Linked DNA regions of Homo sapiens. The protein of the gene in region 1 interacts with the protein of each later gene in a pairwise test. Each region holds a gene or a part of one and is shown in the gene's direction. Other genes may lie near its edges.

Region 1 (7,095 bases):
TTGTGGATTAATTTGTTTAGGATTATGGCCTCCAATTGTGTCCATATTATTGCCAAGGACATAATTTTATTTTTTTATGGCTGTGTAGAATTCTGTGTTATATATATATACCACATTTTCTTTATCCAATCTGCCACTGATGGGCACTTGAGTTATTTCCATGTATTTGCTATTGTGAATAGCACAGCAATGAGTGTATGAGGGCATGTGTCTTTTTGGCAGAATTTCTTTTCTTTTGGGTATATACCCAGTAATGGAATTGCTAGGTTAAATGGTAGCTCTGTTTTAAGTTCTTTGAGAAATATCCACACTGCTTTCCACAATGGCTGGAGTAATTAATATTCCCACCAACCGTGTATAAGCATTCTCTTTCCTCTATAGTCTTGCCAGCATGTTATTTTTTGACTTTTTAATAATAACCATTCTGACTGGTGTGAAATGGTATCTCATTGTGGTTTTGATTTGCATTTCTCCGATGATTAGTGATATTGAGCGTTTTTTCGTATGCTTATTGGCTGCTTGTATGTTCTTTTGAGAAGTGTGTATTTATGTCTTTTGCTCTTTTTTTAGTGGGGTTGTTTCATGCTTGTTTGATTATTTAAGGTCGTTACAGATTCTGCATATTAGTCCTTTGTTGAATGCATAGTTTGTGAATATTTTCTCTCATTCTGTGGATTGTCTTTTTACTCTGTTGCTAGTGCAGAAGCTTTCTGTGCAGAAGCTCTTTAGTCCCACTCGTCAATTTTTGTTTTCGTTGCCATTACTTTTGAGGACTTAGTCATAAATTCTTTCCCCAGGCCAATGTCCAGAATGGTGTTTCCTAGGTTTTCTTCTAGGATTCTTATAGTTTGAGGTCTTACTTTTAAATCTTTAATCCATCTTGAGTAAAGTTTTGTATATGGTTAATGTTAAGGGGCCAGTTTCTTTCTTCTGCTTATGGCTAGACAGGTATCCCAGCACCATTTATTGAATAGAGAATCCTTTCTCCATTGCTTATTTTTGTTGACTTTGTCAAAGTTCAGATGGCTGTAGATGTGTGGCTTTATTTCTGGGTTCTCTATTATGTTCCAGTGATCTATGTGTCTGTTTTTGTACCAGTACCATGATGTTTTGGTTACTGTAGCCTGTTGTACTTTTAAACTATTTTGGTAGTCTTGTATACATAAAGCAATGTTCATGGAACCTTTCTATTTTAACTAGTTTGATATATATTTTGTTCCTTGACATAGAACAGATAATATATGTTACACTTTATGTATTCTAAATATTTGACATGTAATTAAATTTAAGTGAATATTTTGCATGCTCATATTATTATTACTGTTGCCAAAGACTGTTTACACTTCTAATAAGAAAGAATGTTACATCAGCCAAACTAAATGGCCACAGTAGACATGTTATTTGATATCCTGCACTGAGTAGTGGGTTTTTAAAAAAATTTGTATGTAAGAAAATTATTATGCTATAGATTATTTCAAATCAAGTGTTATAAAATATTCCTAAGCCTTCTTAGAATAGCTATATACACTTTTCTAGAAAATTGGTGGAAATTATCTTTTGGTATAAACTTTGTATATGTTTATAGCATTAACTTACAACTCCTAGTCTAATGATTTATGTGTGATTTGCATGCAGTAAATTTTATTAAAGGAATGAATTAACTAGTTGCCTGTTAATGAGAATGATGTAACAAAAGACTAGGTGAAGTAATTAAATTTTCATGAAGCAGTATCTATGATCAGGCACATCCTTCCCTATATTGTTACATGCCATATTCATAGGCTTATTCAATTGTGTGTTTTGAGAATTTTGTATTAATAGGGCGTTAGATTGTAAGTGTCTTGAAGGGGGATCTTTTTTGTGGCACAGACGCTGATATGTTATAGGCAATTATTAAATGCTTATTGAGTGAATAAACATGGTTTGCTCCTTTGATTTGGGTTTTTTTAAATCTAGTGGTTGGTCTTGGGGGTTTTGTTTGTTTTGGCAGCAAAGGTCTGGCAGAAAATGTATGAGGAGGTATTATAGAACTCTTAGGATAGAAGACAAGAATACTTTTTTGTACATGCTGTTTTTTAGAAATATTCTTCAAAATGAATGGGAGTGTTTTAAAAAGGAAGTACTGAGGGGAGCTGACATATAACATGCAGGGTGGAAGGAAGTGTGTAAAAAATAGTCATAAGTTAGTGGGCACAAAAGAGCCTGTCACACCATGCTCCTTTCTCCAGGAGGATCTCTTCTCTCTACTTTGGATGAGAGAAAACCATGGGCTTACTCTAAAAAGTACTGTGTCCCTGCTTAATATAGTCAGAGGGAGGATGTCACTTATTTCATAGTTAAACTTGTCATTGCATCCTGTACACATATAAAAGTAGAAAATAAAATGAAGTATTGTCTTTTATACCTTGGGGGACTGTGACTCAGTGCTGGATTTTTAGTCAAGAACCGATGCGTACACTTTAATAATTTAATACAGAAATAACCCAGAGTAGTTTTTACGCTAATAAAAGGATATTTCTTGAAGCCTGCTGGGGATTTTTTTTTTTATCACCAAACCAGCTCAGTGTTTATTGATTAAGAGAGTTCTTTGTCAGTCTTTGAATTCTAATAGTTTTACACAAAAATAAATAAATTCTTACTAAAAATATGTTACAAGGCATCCATCCCTATATATTGTGAAATTGTACTTGACTGCAGTGGTAAACACATGTAAATAAAAAGGAAAATCCTCTGTACCTGTTAGAGCACTGGGAAAAGCATAGGTCAACAGTATGCATTTTAAGTCATGAAATAGTCTTAATTCAACAGAACAGTGATTTTTCTGGTAACAGTAATTTGACATTACTAGTGATTTGAAGTGAATTGAGCCACTGCAAGACACTCAATTTATGAAAAATTTCTCCTGCCCATGTAAAATTAACTATGCTTAATGGTTCTAAGATTATAATATTCATGTCTATGTTGAAATAATCCAATTTAAATATATCCTGTCGTTAAGACAAATACCTAGTTGACAGAAAAAAGAAGCAAACTAATCTTCTATCTGTTTTGTAGTGAGCTGATCCAGTTTATTACAACTGGTCCTATTATTGCCATGGAGATTTTAAGAGATGATGCTATATGTGAATGGAAAAGACTGCTGGGACCTGCAAACTCTGGAGTGGCACGCACAGATGCTTCTGAAAGCATTAGAGCCCTCTTTGGAACAGATGGCATAAGAAATGCAGCGCATGGCCCTGATTCTTTTGCTTCTGCGGCCAGAGTAAGGTGTTTTAAAAATATTTTAATGCTCTTCTAGTTCTGTTAAATGTTTTATATCAAAGGAAAGCATTTCTATCACTGGTGACTTAGGGTGGATTTATGCTGCTGCTCTAGTAGTAGAGAAAACCTTTGACATCTTGCCTACTATCAAACAGTGATTCAGTGTGTCTCCTTTGTGAACTGGTAACCTGATCATGATCAACGTAAGTTTTCTCCAATTAAAACACTTCTCATCCTGTTTCTTGTTCCCAAGACTTAAATTACTGAGGCTCCTAAATGTTTGAATTATTGAATTCATGTAAGAATACCAGTTTATGGCTAGTAGATATTAAAAAGAAGATATAATTTGAGATATTTCCTTTTGATTCAGACGTAACACTGTGCTTTCAAGCTTAACATCCTATTATTTTCCTATATATAGCTAGTGTTTATGAAAGTTTCTCTACTCCTTATTTTTAAATCCATATAAATAAAGCATTTATTGGATTTATACTGAGGTTGAATTAAAGAAGTGTAAGTTTATTTTTAGCATCGTGAGAAGTGTCTCACTTAAGGTAGTTTTTAATCTGGTTGTGTTTGCAATGAAACAATATTAGACAGTTTTATAATTGATTTCTTTCTTTTTCCTACCATTTCATCAGCAAGTCCCTTCAGCTCTTTCAAAATAAACCCTGAATCTGATCATTGTGGTCTGAATCACTATTATATTTTGCCAGAACTGCTACAATAGCCTCCAAATTCTTTTTTCCTCTTTTCTTACACTCAATTAATGAAAATTTTACCTTACCCAAGTAAAATCAGCTATGCCCAGTGATCTTTTAAAGACAAATCAGATTAACATTCACCTGCTGAAAACCCTTCAGTGAATTTCTGTCTCTTCTAGAATAAAATCTAAAGTCTTTATTGTGGCCTCCAATGCTCTATCTAGTCTGGCCCATATCTATCTCTAACTGTATCTTTGATCAATCTCTATCTTAATCATTGTGTTCCAGGCACACTAACCATCTCGCTATTCCTTGAATAGCATATTTCTGTCTGGAATGGTCAACTAACAGCAAAGAGGACAGTGTGGTTGGATAGGAATGAGAGAGGGAGGAAGAGGGTGATGAGGTTACAGAGGTAATTAGGGGAAAGATTATATGGTCTTATAGGCCGTAGTAGTACTTTTAGATTTTTCTCTGAAAAAATAGAGAGCCATTTTAGGGTTTTGAACAAAGGACTGATATCTTCCACTTGCCATTTAAAAGGATCATTCTGGCTGTTGCATTAAGAATGACTATAGAGGCTGGGAGTGGTGGCTCACACCTGTAATCCCAGCACTTTGGGAGGCCAAGGCGGGCAGATCATTTGAGGCCAGGAGTTCGAGACCAGCCTGGCCAATATGGTAAAACCCTGTTTCTACTAAAAATACAAAAATTAGCTGGGTGTGGTGGCGCCCACCTGTAATCCCAGCTACTCCAGAGGCTAAGGTGGGAGAATTGCTTGAACCAGGGAGGTGGAGGTTGCAGTGAACTGAGATCATGCCACTGTGCTCTAGCCTGGGTGACAGAGTGAGACTCCATCTCGGGGGAAAAAAAAAAGAATGACTATAGAGGGCAAAAACAGCAACAGGGAGCCTAATCAGGAGTCTGTTGGAATAACCCAGTGAGATGATGGCTTGGACCTGGGTGGTAATAATGAAAGAAGTATACAAATATATTTTAAAATATATATTAACGGTTGAAGGTCAAATAAACAAGATTTTCTGCTAGATTGAATGTAGAGTATGAGAAAAAGATACCAAGTATTACTCCAAAGTTCTTAGCCTGATTATCAGAAGGATAGAATTTACGTAAACTGAAATGAGGAAAACTGTGGCTAGAGTCAGAATGAATGGACAATCAGGAGTTAACGTTTTGGACATTTATAAACTTAACCTGTTTGTTAGTTTTCCAATTAGACTGATGAAAAAAATTAGTGTGACAGCTTAGAGTTATCAGCACATAAATGGTATTTAAAGCCGGGAGACTGGTTGAGATTACCAAGGAGAAGGTATAGATAGAGAAGTAAAGAGGACCAAAGATGAAGCTACATCTTGATAAAAGGTAAGGAGAAGAAGGCAGCAAAGGAGGTTGAAGAGGAGCCACCAGAGAGGTAAGAGGAAAAACTGAGAGATAATTATGTCCTGGAGGCCAAGTGAATCAAATATTCTAAAATGAGAGAATGACCAGTGGTGTCAAATAAGGCAAGTAAGAAGAGGACTAAGAATGGATTGTTAAATTTTGCAATGTGGATATCATTGGTGAACTTTGTAAGGTGAATGTTGATGGGGAGGTGGAGGCAAAACCCTGTGTGGAGTAGACTTAAAAGAAAATTGTGGGACGGGAATTGTAGTTAGTGAATATAGACAACTTTTTTTTTGAGGAGTTTTTTTGAGGAGTTTTCCTGCAAAGAGATGAGGTGGTAGCTGTCAAGAAAAGTAGTATCAATTTTTTTTAAGAGGAGAGGTATTGGGTAAAAAATTGATGATGTAGGAAAAAGAGGAAGACTTGTTGGAGCAATTTCATTAATTAGGCAAAAGGAAATGGAAATTAGAACCCAGGTGGAGAGATTAGGCAGGTGTGCCTCTCAGGTACTCGTCTATAGCAACAGATGGGAAGGGAGAATATGTGAACACAGATGCTGATTCTTAAGTAGGAAGCAAGATCAAAACAGCTGAAAGTGAGGATGAGGTATAAGGTATTGGTTGGTCTGAAGGGAGAGAAGAATATGTGAAATGGTGATCTGGAAAAGGAATAGATCAGGGAAATGTGGTGTGTGATTGCTATACTGAATTAATGGCCCATGTAGTGTTCATGGCCATGAACTATGAGTGTGGTTCTCCAGCCTGTTCAACTGCATGGCTGAAGGTAAGGAGTAGGTGGAGAGCTGGCTTTTAACCATGGCTGTGGTTTTGTGAAACAAATGTGACGGAAGTGTTAAGGAAGTTAAAGATACATGCAAGAGAGCAATTATAGTCTTTGACCATATCTTAGTAGTAGACATTTATTGTAAATGTGGTATTGTTTTGTATAGTTAAATTTCCAATCATATTTTAAAGCATTATAAAAATAATAAACATATCTAATTAATGAAGGAAATAATTGAGGCTGAACTGAAAGTCACTACCATGTTTACTGATATTTCCTGCCTATTTCACCCTATTACCACCTTATGCCATCCATTTCTTTTTTATTTCTACTAGATTATTTAATAAATTTGAGCATAAATATACTTGTTAGATTTTAGCATATCTTGTAGTGGAGCAACTTTTGTTAAGTTAGCTACTGTCTCAGTCCATTTTGTGTTGCTGTGAAGGAATACCTGAGGCTGGGTCATTTATAAAGGAAAAAGGTTTATTTGGCTCATAGTCCTGATGGCTGGGACATCAAGATTGGGCATCTGCATCTCGTGAGGGTCTCAGGCAGCTTCCACTGCCTGAGGTGGAAGGTAAAAGGGAGCCTGCGTGTGCACAGATCACATGGTAAGAGAAGAAGCAAGCCACCGGGAGAGGTGTCAGGCTGTTTTTAACAACCAGCTTTCAGAGGAACTAATAGAGGGAAAATTCGCTCACCTTGGAGGGAGGGCATTAATCTATTCATGGGATTTACCCCTACTATCCAAACCTCCCATTAGGCCCTATCTCCAACATTGGGGATCAAATTTCAACGTGAGATTTGGAAGGAACAAACATCCAATCCAGAGCAGCTACCATTGCCATTTCACCTAAAGAAATGTCTTAAACATATTCGTTTATATTTTGTGCATTTAATTTTTTTAACCTCTTTCTGCCATTAGTTCCTGAAATATCCTATT
Region 2 (6,989 bases), on another chromosome or scaffold:
ATACACTGTATGAATCCATTCATATCAAGTTCAAAAACAGATACAACTAATTATTGTCAAGGAGGTCAGAATATCGGGTGCCTTTTGGGGGTGGATATTGACTAGAAGCAGCTCCGAGGCAGCCTTCTGAGTGGCTGGCTAGAAGCGTTCTGTATCTTAATCCGGGTAGTGGGTTACAAAGACTCTCCTTGATGACACTCTGAAGAGGCTTCTCTGAGCCCTGTTCTCCACTAGGCTTCAGCCTTGGCCTGTAACTACTGCAGATACTGAGCACACATTATTTTATCCATGCCCCACACTAACAGACCTAAACAAATACTAGCATGCCCCTAGGATGATGACTTCGGTCACCTTTAGTTACTGCCTGGGAAAGCTCAAGAATGCCAAAATAATATATGTTTGTTCCAGTTCTATGAACCTATGGTGACCACAACGTTTGATTTTATTCTGAAACTGTTGTTAACTGTATCCATTCAATTTAATGATGGGTGTCTTGTTCTTTCAACAACAAAAAAATATCTTATGGAGCAATTTCACTTTTGACCCCTCACTCTTACTTTTTCATATTCTGCGATCACAGACTCAGAACACATCCATTTGCTAATCAGATTTGTTTCTTTCCTGGAGGATTGTGACTTTTTAACTGCTGCATCATTAAAAAATTTTTTTTCATATGTTTAAGGTAAGTTCTTTAGCATCAACAGTTCTAAAGGTTCTAAAGGTTCTCTGCCCTTTCAGATCAGTGCCCACTGTTTTATAACATATATTTGTAACATCCCCTTTAGTAGGTTGAAGTGAAATTCATAATCTACCTTACATGAATATTTTCAAATAAATAAAAATTATGTTCTAACAGCAATATCAAGAATTAAAAAGAAAGCAATTTCTAGGAAAATAATATCGACTACAGTATGTAAATGCTTGGGCATAACTACATCAAAAGACATAATGGGGCCAGATGCAGTGGCTCATGCCTATAATCCCGGCACTTTGGGAGGCTGAGGCGGGAAGATCATTTGAGCCCAGGAGTTCGAGACCAGCCTGGGCAACATAGCAAGACCCCGTCTCTTAAAAAAAAAAGACATAATGGGTTGGGTGTGGTAGCACGGGCATGTAGTCCCAGCTGTTTGGGAGGATGAGGTAGGAGGATAGCTTGAGCCCAGGAGGTGGAGGCTGCAGTGAGCTGTGTTCATGCCAGTGCATTCCAGCCTTGGTGACAGAGCAAGACCCTGTCTCCAAAAAAAAAAAAAAGACATAATGAAGTTGCCAGATGTTTGTACTTGTACCTAGAATCAGTGTGAATGCAAGTGCTGCAAATGCAGCCTGATACTACTGTGGTTTTTTGTTTGTTTGTTTTCTGAGACACAGTCTTGCTCTGTCATCCAGGCTAGAATGCAATGGTGTGATCTCGGCTCACTGCAACCTCCACCTCCCCAGTTCTAGCGATTCTCGTGCCTCAGCCTCTCAAGTAGCTGGGATTACAGGAGCACACCACTACGCCCAGCTAATTTTTGTATTTTTAGTAGCGACAGGGTTTCACCATGTTGCCCAGGCTGGTGTTGAACTCCTGACCTCAGGTAATCCACCCGCCTCGGCCTCCCAAAGTTCTGGGATTACAGGTGTGAGCCACCACAGCTGGCATACTGTGTTGTATTGATGAGCTGTCAGAGTTACAATTTTCCAACTTTTAAAACATTTTTTAATAAAAGTCTGCCCTCAATTTATACAATATTTGCATTCCTGGGAAATTCAGTATATATTAAAAACCATACAAAAATATTTTATATCTATATATGAAAGGGAGTTGTGTTCTAACCATATATTATTAAAATAGGCATTTCAACTACATGAAAGTGAATGTTTGATGAGACGTTTGAAGGTCATGAGGATGAGGGACAATTCTTGACTGTGCTCTTTCCTATCTCAAGGACCTGCTGCCTGCTGTTCCCCCAGCTGGAATGTTCTTTCCCTGAATCTCCCTGTGAATGGCCTTTTTTTTTTTTTTTTTTTTTTTCTGAGACGGAGTCTCGCTCTGTCGCCCAGGCTGGAGTGCAAGTGGCATGATCTCGGCTCACCGCAACCTCCGCCTCCCAGGTTCAAGCAATTCTCTACCTCAGCCTCCTGAGTAGCTGGGGTTACAGGCGCCCGCCACCACGCCTGGCTAATTTTTGTATTTTTAGTAGAGACGGGGTTTCACCATCTTGGCCAGACTGGTCTTGAACTCCCAACCTCGTGATCCACTTGCCTCAGCCTCCCAAAGTGCTGGGATTACAGGCATGAGCCACTGCGCCTGGCCGGCTCTTTCTTAAACTGAGGACTCAGCTCAAATGTCACCTCCTCAGAACTTTCCTCTCCCCCAGTCACTTTTCATTTTGAAATTCCTTCAGAGAACTGAAAATGTTTTCCGTCTCTTTGAAATGTATGTACATATTTTAAAAAGCTAAATAAGCCTCTTGCTAGTTTTGCGTCCTCAGAAGGTCTTTCTTGCGGGCCTCGGAGCCATCTCTTGGAAATGTGAACATCAAGGATGGTGCTCCATGTTTCTGTCTCTAGGAGGGTTTAAGCCTTGGCTCTTGGTTCCAAGATAACTTCCCATTATTTTCCTTTGGATAAAGACAATTAATAGGTATGTAATGGATTGTACGTGCCTGACCATATGAAAAGGTGAGATTTCCTTTTTTTTGGTCTTTGCACTCTCTTCAGTGGATTGCCTGTGATGTGCATCATGGTACGTTTTAGTACATATCCAATAATAAAACTGTTTCATTCTTTTGTTGTACATTGCGCATTTCGTGGAAAGAACAGTTTGGGGTTGGCAGGATATTTTAAATTATTTGCCCATATGGGTCCCCCAGTTTTGGGCACTTGTATGGCAGGCTGATATTCCCCATTACCTCTCCGTACTAATTTTAACTAGTAAGGGACAGGGGCAAGGGCATGGAGCTTTGGAGTCAGACAACCCTGGCTTTAAACTGTGCCTTTTATCAGCATTCTGAAGTACTGTATGTTGAAGTAACTTCTCTGAACCCCGAATACTTCATCTATAAAGTTAGGAATAATAAATACGTCATAGATTAAGTATGGACATTATCTGATGCATAGCAGGTACTATTCAAATGAAGGAAACGAAGTTATCCTAGGTCCTTTAATGCACTAAATGTGTGCTCCATTTCCGCCTTTCTTGGCATCTGTGTGAAATCTCAGGATATAGTGTCCACTAAACTTCAGTGCACTGCCTAATGAGACAACGAACTCCAAGTGCGGACCTTTTGAGTTTAAACGGGTTTCAGTAGGTAAAATACGTAAAGTTCACAGTACCCTCGCAATTTAGATGGAGGAAAAAAAATCAGTCGGGGGGGGGGTCCCCGTATGCAAATACAGGAATTACAGAAGAAGACAGGACCCCCGCCGCAGCACCACTTCCCCCTACAGGGCGCAACGTCCCGCCGCTGGCGCGGGGGTGGAGATTTGCATGTGCGAAGTCGGGAAGAGGGGGAACCACCTCTCGAAAACCCCGGCCGTCGCCCTCCCAGGCCGGGAGAGTCGGCCCCGCGCGCCCCCAAAAGCTCCCCAGCGGCCGGCCCTCTCTACGTCATCCGCACCCTCCCGCCCGCTCCTGAACTTTAAACCACACTCGGAAGAACAACCTGGAGGAGGGGGATTTCTCAGGAGCCAGCGGCCTTCTCACGCTGCTAGCCGTCACCTCCCGGCTCCCGCCGTTCCCTGCGCTCCCGAAGCCCACCCCAAGCTCCCGCTCCCTCGACCCCCTCCCAAGCCAGCCGCCGCAGCAGCGCCGGGGGCGTATGCGTGGGGGCCGGCGGGGAGCGTGCGCGGGGACAGGCAGGGGCGGGGCGCTGGGGGCGGTCGCGCGCGCGGCGGCCGCGAGGTCGCCCCGCCCACGCCTCCGGGTGAGGGTTGCTGCGTCGGGCCTACGTCAGCCGCGGGAAATTCCCCTCCCGCCAGGCTGCTCGCCTCTCGGCTGGGCCAGCACTCGGCTCTCCCCGCTCCGCCCCCTGCCCCTGGCTCCCGTACGGTGGACGGCGACGCTGGGTGACCCGGGGTGCAAGAATTCAGGGGTTGGGAAGGTGTGAGCCGCAAACCCAGCGGAGGGCGGGAAGAAGGAGGAGGCCTCTAGGGTGGTCGGGGGACTGGGGGCCCCGCCGGCAGAGGTCCCTCGGCCTCCTGACTGACTGACTGCGGCCGCCTCCGGCCAGGACGCTGGGAGCTGCCTGCGGGAAGGTGCGGGGAGCGGAGCCATGGCCTCCGGTGAGTGTTCATGGGGCGCGGGCCTGGGCCGGGGGAAAGGAGCTCTTCTGAAGGGGGTCCTGCCGCAGTGAGTTTAGGGAGCTCAGTTTTTGCTGGGGCGCGTTCTGTCTTTAAAATCTCATATGGTAAAATTGTCAGCTTTTAAAAAAGTTACCTGCTTCAGGGTTTGCGTGCAGAATCCAAGCCACGCTCTGTAATTCGATCCTGTTGTCATAGCAGGAACCTTAGAAATTCCCAACGACTTGATTTTAGGATTAGGGAAGTCATAAGCGAACCAAAGGAGGACGAAGAGTTCTCATTAAAAATGTATATGTATTGAAGATGGTGGTTTTATGTTTTAGAACAGGAATGAGGAACCTTCAGACCTCGGGCAAGCTCTCTCCCCCTTTTTAGTTTAATTTCATCAAATGCAAAGAGGTGATCCCCCTTGTACTGACAGTTGTACAAAATGTGTCACGGCTTTAAAAATCATCCGTGGTATTTTAACACGAATTAGAAAATCCGTGGTATTTTAAGTGTTAATGTTGCTTCGACCAAGTGTAGGCCGGGCGCGGTGGCTCATGCCTGTATTCCCAGCACTTTGGGAGGCCGAGGCGGGTGGATAACCAGAGGTCAGGAGTTTGAGACCAGCCTGGCAAACATGGTGAAACCCCGTCTCTACTAAAAATACAAAAATCAGCGGGGCGTGGTGGCGCGCGCCTGTAATCCCAGCTACTCGGGAAGCTGAGGCAGGAGAATCGCTTGAACCTGGGAGGTGGAGGTTGCAGTGAGCCGAGATCGCGCCCCTGCACTCCAGCCTGGGCGACAGAGGGAGACCCTGTCTCTATTTAAAAAAAAAAAAAATGTAGTTTTTACTGTGAGATAAAGCTCAAGGTTCCTAATCTGACGAATAGAGACGTTGAATCCCCCTTCCTCCTCGCTGGAAATAAGGGGAAAGAGGAGTTTTAGAATATCCGAGCTTTAAAATAATGAGTAGGAATGAATACAACTTTATCACTTATGTGACTATATATTTTCCCTTAATAAATGCTCGATCTCTCCCTTTGGGGGGGAATAAGTTTGTAAGAAACATTGCAGAGCAAGAAAGTCTCCTATATACACAGATGTGGTTGGGGCTGCCTGGAGCTTAAGGTTGAGGGGGACGGGAGAGCCGGGGCGGGGGGATAAATCAAGTAGCCTGGGGTCGAGTTGGTCTTTTACCAGGATTTTGGCAAGGTGAGTGGGGGACACTTTCCAGACAGAGGAAGCAGCGTGAGCAAAGGCAGGGAGGGCTAAATGCATGTTAAATGCTGTACTAAGAGAATGAAGAGGGGGCCCCGTTTATGAACTTGACTCTTATCCCCAAACTGCCTGGTCCAGTGACCCTCAGAAGTAGGCTGATGTCTAGTAGAGATGAGGAAGTAGGAAGCTTAAAGAACCTTTTTAAAAGGTTGAGCAGAACAATGCCATAGCTATTGCTGTAGGCAGAAAAGGAAATTGGGGTGTTTCACATGACATTTGATTTCAGTTTGTTTGTGGTTGTGAGAATACTAAGTGTAGTTTAAAATATTTCAACTTTCCCTTTTCCCACTTAAGTGACACCAGACTTTCAGATAATCGTGTAAATTTATGAATTCAAAGCATGTGTAGATTAGAAGTGCTAAGATGACTTCAAATATTTTGTTAATGTATTGGTTATCAGAAAGATTTTGTTTGGAAGTAATGGAGAATGCCTAGCATTATAAGTAAGTTCAGGCTCTTGGCGATTTAATCAAACTTTATTGATATATTGCATGAATTTAATACTTCTAATTTTTTCAGTTGAGAGAGGAAACAACCATTTCTATATAGAGTATTGTAAGACCCACAGGATTTTAAAATTTGATACAATTTAAATTTGTTCATTGACACTGTATTTTGTGCTGTTGTGAGGAGGAAGGATTCCCTAAAAGTAAGGAGGAAATGTTTAAAGAAATGGAAAGTTTTAAAGGTTTAGAAGTTGAAGGGTGATTAACTTTTTTTTTTTTTTTTTTGGTCTTTTCTAAGAGTTGCATTAAAATGGGACTATTTAAAATGTAACAAGTTATTTAAATTGTAATTCAGTTGTTAGAAAACTGCCAGGCCTGGAATAAAAAAAAAAAAATGTTTACAGGAATCTGTGTACTTTTCCTTAATCTGTTATAAAGACCTTAGAGAAAGAAAAAGATTCACTAATAAAATTCTAAATTCCTATTCTGTTTTGAAACAGTAATTTAACCGGAAGAGTGACCAAAAAAAAAAAAAAAAAGAAATTGCTTAGTTTTTCATTGTCTAGTTTAGATTCTGTTTGTAGTAAGGTAGTATTAAAACCTCAGAAAGTAACTTTTATTCATTACGAAGTATTTAAGAGCATTTCTTCATTTCTTACCAGATGTCATATGTAAATAGGTATATGTAGTTGAATATGTGATAGCTATAATGTAAAAGTAACATAAATCATAATCTTATAAGCAAAATTATGTAAGTTAGAATGTAGTTTAAAATCATGTATATAATATGATTCTAAATTTTGTTTAGATAAGTTAGCAGATTAATTAGGATTTCACAGCTTGTATTAAGCTGCCTTTCGTTGCTTTTTAAAAAAATTACACCTTGATCACAGTCTTTTGACATAATTAATAATAGATATAGTGAAGAAAAATGTTCCCAAACCCATCTAAGGTATGCATAGTAGGCAGTTGTTGCTTTTGTATATTTATTCTATT

Evidence for each region. Proteins that work in one complex are often made in the same cells at the same time.
Region 2: the proteins of NME7 (region 1) and REL interact in binary tests that used the Homo sapiens proteins (3 or more experiments, as listed by UniProt).

Annotation. Positions count from the first base shown.
Region 1 is NC_000001.11:169,294,723-169,301,817, reverse strand, and holds part of NME7 (nucleoside diphosphate kinase homolog 7), read left to right. Parts: intron 1-3,054; coding exon 3,055-3,262; intron 3,263-7,095. UniProt on the Homo sapiens protein: Possesses an intrinsic kinase activity. Displays 3'-5' exonuclease activity with a preference for single-stranded DNA. Does not seem to have nucleoside diphosphate kinase activity.
Region 2 is NC_000002.12:60,877,585-60,884,573, forward strand, and holds the start of REL (proto-oncogene c-Rel), read left to right. Parts: upstream 1-3,989; 5' UTR 3,990-4,256; coding exon 4,257-4,266; intron 4,267-6,989. UniProt on the Homo sapiens protein: Proto-oncogene that may play a role in differentiation and lymphopoiesis.